2 separate regions of the Homo sapiens genome follow, and region 1 is linked to region 2. The links come from fine-mapping of genetic effects on gene expression. A gene starts in region 2. The other region holds a variant in brackets. All regions are shown on one strand. Distances are between the middles of the regions.

Region 1 (2,922 bases), 27 kb before region 2:
TATAATTTTATTCAAAATCAGTTTCCTTCTGCTTTCAAACCTCCAGCCAGCTCAGCCACCCATGTCCTTCAGAAGCTCTAAGCCTGTCTTATTGATGTGTAATTTTCTGGTTCCTGAAATCATTTTAGCATAGGCTTAATCCTCACTGGATTTTGTTATCTTGGACCAGGCTGTTTAACTTTAGCTTATGGTACATATGAGGCAGAGTGCGGTAGAGGTCAAGAATGCAGGCTCTGGAAGCAAAGAGCCTCGATGGACATTACAGCCCTGCACTTGCTAACTATCTACCCCAGGTAGTGCCTCTCTTGCTTTTTCAGTTTCCTCACCTATAAAATTGGATGATCACAGTATCTCTCTCATAAGGAGGGTAATATATGTAAAATGCTTGAAATAATAAGTGCTCAATATGAGTTGATTACTATTAGGGACAGAGTAGAGAGGAAAAACACAGTAACGACCTGCATGGAACTTACAGTCTAAACAGAGGCAGACATATATTAACCAAGGAATCACACAAACAGATGAAACTCGGTATGGAAGTTTGGGGCCGTATTTCTGAGGTCTTCTTGGAAATGTTTGCCAGTCACAAAACACTCAGCCCAAAATGGATTGACTAACATGCAGGTTAAAATTAGTACATTATATAAGGTGAAATTAATTATTACTTACTCATTAATTTACATATTCATTGGGGGAGGGAAAATCAAGGTAAAAATTATCAGAAATTAACCCCACTTTTTGATGAATCTTCCTAAAAAGGCAGTATATCCAAGAGAAAGAGCCCAAATCTAGAGAGTCCTGGGTTCTAATTCCAGTTCTAACTCTCATTATCCTCTCTGGACCTCACTGTCCTCATTCATAAAATGGGGGAATAGCATAAAATGGGAGAACATCCAAGGCTGTTGTGAGGATCTGATAAGGTACCTGGTGCGGAGAGCCACACAGGTGGTGCACACTGAAGAAACGCTAGGACCCCCCCACCAGCCCAGCCCTACCCGTGCCTGCCCCAAGCTGTGGAGAGCCCTTCCTCTCACCTACAGTGCCTTCCCTTTCTCTTGCACTTGGTAATAAAATTAAAATGAGAAACAAGGGTTCTATTTCTCTGCACTGGAATGGACAGTGTAACTCCTGCCTGGTGATAACAGGCTCTCCACTCTAGGTTACTGTCAAGGTTCACTTCCCTCGAATGCGAATGGACATTTGCCCCTCATTAGCATGGCCCAGGGCCGCTGTGTTTGGCCGGGAATGGGCTGGTAGGCTCGCCTTACTTCGAGTCTGTTCCTTCCCCCAGTCATGCCTCTGCTGCTGCTGTTACCAGTCCAAAAGTCTGATGACCTCGGTCCCCATGAACGGAACAAGCATCCAGTGGAAGAACCACGATCAAAACAACCACAACACAGACCGGAGCAGCCATAAGGACAGCATGAACTGACCACCCTTAGAAGCACTCCTCGGTACTCCCATAATCCTCTCGGAGAAAAAAATCACAAGGCAACTGTGA[G/C]TCCGGGAATCTCTTCTCTGATCCTTCTTCCTTAATTCACTCCCACACCCAAGAAGAAATGCTTTCCAAAACCGCAAGGGTAGACTGGTTTATCCACCCACAACATCTACGAATCGTACTTCTTTAATTGATCTAATTTACATATTCTGCGTGTTGTATTCAGCACTAAAAAATGGTGGGAGCTGGGGGAGAATGAAGACTGTTAAATGAAACCAGAAGGATATTTACTACTTTTGCATGAAAATAGAGCTTTCAAGTACATGGCTAGCTTTTATGGCAGTTCTGGTGAATGTTCAATGGGAACTGGTCACCATGAAACTTTAGAGATTAACGACAAGATTTTCTACTTTTTTTAAGTGATTTTTTTGTCCTTCAGCCAAACACAATATGGGCTCAAGTCACTTTTATTTGAAATGTCATTTGGTGCCAGTATTTTTTAACTGCATAATAGCCTAACATGATTATTTGAACTTATTTACACATAGTTTGAAAAAAAAAAGACAAAAATAGTATTCAGGTGAGCAATTAGATTAGTATTTTCCACGTCACTGTTTATTTTTTTAAAACACAAATTCTAAAGCTACAACAAATACTACAGGCCCTTAAAGCACAGTCTGATGACACATTTGGCAGTTTAATAGATGTTACTCAAAGAATTTTTTAAGAACTGTATTTTATTTTTTAAATGGTGTTTTATTACAAGGGACCTTGAACATGTTTTGTATGTTAAATTCAAAAGTAATGCTTCAATCAGATAGTTCTTTTTCACAAGTTCAATCTGTTTTTCATGTAAATTTTGTATGAAAAATCAATGTCAAGTACCAAAATGTTAATGTATGTGTCATTTAACTCTGCCTGAGACTTTCAGTGCACTGTATATAGAAGTCTAAAACACACCTAAGAGAAAAAGATCGAATTTTTCAGATGATTCAGAAATTTTCATTCAGGTATTTGTAATAGTGACATATATATGTATATACATATCACCTCCTATTCTCTTAATTTTTCTTAAAATGTTAACTGGCAGTAAGTCTTTTTTGATCATTCCCTTTTCCATATAGGAAACATAATTTTGAAGTGGCCAGATGAGTTTATCATGTCAGTGAAAAATAATTACCCACAAATGCCACCAGAACTTACGATTCTTCACTTCTTGGGGTTTTCAGTATGAACCTAACTCCCCACCCCAACATCTCCCTCCCACATTGTCACCATTTCAAAGGGCCCACAGTGACTTTTGCTGGGCATTTTCCCAGATGTTTACAGACTGTGAGTACAGCAGAAAATCTTTTACTAGTGTGTGTGTGTATATATATAAACAATTGTAAATTTCTTTTAGCCCATTTTTCTAGACTGTCTCTGTGGAATATATTTGTGTGTGTGATATATGCATGTGTGTGATGGTATGTATGGATTTAATC
Region 2 (2,922 bases):
CCATCTGATTTTTTTCAGGGGTGATAGCAGTAAACTGAATGGGAATATGATAGGAACCACCACTCCTGCATTCTTTAAATATTGAAAAATGGTATTAATTTCTGCAATTCCACCCAGGATATAATATTGCTCTGATTTATTGTCTTGGCTTGGAGAAACAATCTCGGGGATGATAGGATTTTAGAATAGCAGAAGCCAACTAGTTGCTTTAACCAATTGGCTCTTCCTACCATAAGGGTTCTTACTCACAGGTCAGTGAAACAATATGAGCATTCTTCCAATTGCAAAGAATATCAATCCCAGTTATGCCCAAGAGGACTGGGGAAATGATCACAGGTTGGGTCTCTGGACCCATTGTACATATTGTAACATAGATCTAGGCTAAGACTCCACATGTCTCCTCTGTAATCATGGAGCCAAGAAAGCATTTTCAGATCCCCTGATATCAGCATCAGTTCAGATCCTATGTCCAAAAGCTCTCAAAAGTCTTCCTCTTTCTATAGCATACAATTACTCTGTTAAACAGCTACAGTTTCCTTTGAGTTAGGATTGATATATTGTATATGCTTGCAGTGACATTGAGGGGTCTTTCATTAGGCAGACACAGCCTCTCCAATTGGTGGTCTCTGATCAAAAGAATTAACTAAGCTGGAAACTGGACCAGAGATTGCAGGTTTCCACTATGGTAGCTGATATCAGTTTTCTTCACAGCAACTCTTGATTTTTTTTTTTCTGATTGTATAAGCCAAGCAATGTGCTAGCTCACTCTTTATCTCATTTGCCCCAAGGAAAATATAGTCTATTAGACACTGCCACAGATATGTGCAGGACTCAGTGCCCCAGATGCAACTCTGGTCTTTCTACCTGGCATGATAATTACATCCACCATGATACTGATGGTTAAATGTTACTACCCTGACCTCTGCTATTCTGGAATTCCATCATCACAATTGACACTATAGAACCCAGTTCCATACAGAACGGAGCCTTAGGCATCCAGCCGTTGGGGTGTGCCACTCAGATCTCCTTTAAAGGAAGAAATTGCCATGAGGAATGTAGTTATCTGACAGCCTCCAGCTGCCTCAACTTTGAGGTCTTTCGCAGCATTCACTCAAAGGCCACATAGTCCTGGTCAAAGACTAAACATGGCAAAGTTTCTAGAGCTGGTCCATTCTTGCTCATCATAGGATTCCTCTAATGGGAAATCTTTCCCCAAGGGTTCCGCATTAGCCTAACCAAGACTTTCTCTGAGACTCTTAGTTATTATGATGCTACTTCCACCAGCACCAGGGTTCTTGTTGCTATCTGGCTGTTGAGTGATTCAGTCCCACTGAGCAATGTCAACCTGATTGTCTTTCTTTGTTTTTAAGAAACAGGGTCTTGCTCTGCTGCCCAGGCTGGAGCACAGTAGTGTGATCATAGCTCACTACAGCCTTCAACTCCTGGGCCTTAGCAATCCTCCTGCCTCAGCCTCCCAAGGAGCTATGGCTGCAGGTATCCGCCACCACTCATTGACAGCCACTTCCAGTACTCACTGTCTTGGACACAGACTTGAGTAAAAGTACAGGTAATTTATTTGGGAAATGATCTCAGGAAGCAGGTAATGAAGTAAGAGAGATAAATGAAAGGTTCTGTCTGGAAGTTCTGAAGGAGAAACTATCCCATGTCCCTCTCCTAGCTTGTAGTGGCTGCAGGCAATCCTTGGTGATCTTTGGCTTATGGATCCATCACTTCAATCTCTGCCTCTGTCTTCACATGGCTTCTTCCCTGTGTATGTCTGTGTCTCTGTGTCCAAGTTTCCATCTTCCTTTAAGGCACCAGTTATTGGATTAGGGACCATTCTAATTCAGTATGGCCTTATCTTAACTTGATTACATCTGCAAAGACTCTATTTCCAAATAAAGTTACATTCTGAGGTTTCTGGTAGACATGGATTTGGGGAAACACTATTCAACCCAGTACAGGCTCCAAAGACAAATAACTAATTGCATAGTTCTGTCCTTTTGGCCACACGGAAATGTGGCTTCAGGGACCAACAGAGTAACTGTTATTATACATATTATCTTGTTATAATAATGGTTATTATGCACATTTATAATGATTTACATCACTGGATAACTGAACAGTCAAAGTGTTCTCCTAACATGTGCCAGAGCCAAAGTATAACGGTAAACCGGGCCAAGAGCATTCTTTAGTTCAGTGATTTCCAAACCCTTTACCCACAGAATCCTTTGTTCAAATGACATTTCATTAGGGGTGTTCAGACAAACATAATGGATAAAAACTGTTCTTGCAGAAACAGGGCCGGTAGGACCAGAGGCTCCCCCTCCTGGGTCAGATTATGCAGTAAGGAGCTTCACAGAATACGACTGGAAATCCACATACCCACTTTTCTGTTTAATTCAGGAAGCAGTTGCTAAACACAACTAACAGAGCAAAGTAAGTACACAGGGCTAAGAGAAGAGGTAGAGAGAAGAACAAAATGAATTTAGGAAAGACTAGAAAGGAGATTGTTGTGGGCACTTTAAGTATTTGGATCCAAAAAGGAGAGGAAAAGTCTGAGAATACCGATCTGTGGCTTCCCGGTGATCCCAGAAGAAAAGGTAAAAGGATGAAGAGGAAAGGGAAGGAAGAAGCTACTTATACAATGATTTAAAGTGGTAGCTGATGTTTTATGGCTTCTTAGATGAAGCTCTAAAGTTTTCTGAGTCAACTTTGAGTCAATTAGCTACATAGGGCAAGCATGTTTACACTGAATGACTTAGAGATCTTCCCAAATAAGTAGACAAACAGAAGACTTTAGTCTCCAGCCTCATTAATCTAATACCTTTTGTGAGCACTTAGCTTGTATACAAAGCCAAATAAAAGCATTCTATCTAAATAAATCAATAATAATTTATATCTTCTGAGCTCTCCAAAGAG

Which allele goes with the higher level. Positions count from the first base shown, and alleles are read on the strand shown. Sizes are in standard deviations (SD) of each study's normalised expression.
For the expression in lung of the gene that starts at base 1,207 in region 2, allele C in region 1 goes with a lower level than allele G (moderate effect, 0.64 SD a copy in GTEx).

Evidence for each region. PIP is the estimated chance that this variant, and not a neighbour inherited with it, causes the effect.
Region 1: its variant is fine-mapped to the expression of LINC02507 in lung (GTEx, PIP above 0.99). The same link has a PIP of 0.9 or more in ovary, prostate, tibial artery, uterus and vagina.

The regions. Positions count from the first base shown.
Region 1 is chr4:147,541,187-147,544,108 of GRCh38, forward strand. EDNRA (endothelin receptor type A) reads left to right here. Exons shown (of 8, transcript NM_001957.4): 8 at 1,292-2,922. The coding sequence ends at 1,432. Among named protein-coding and RNA genes, the nearest start is that of LINC02507, 27 kb to the right of the region's middle. The variant G/C (reference allele first, on the strand shown) is at 1,502.
Region 2 is chr4:147,568,492-147,571,413 of GRCh38, forward strand. It overlaps LINC02507 (long intergenic non-protein coding RNA 2507), which reads left to right and starts at 1,207. Exons shown (of 4, transcript NR_187416.1): 1 at 1,207-1,567.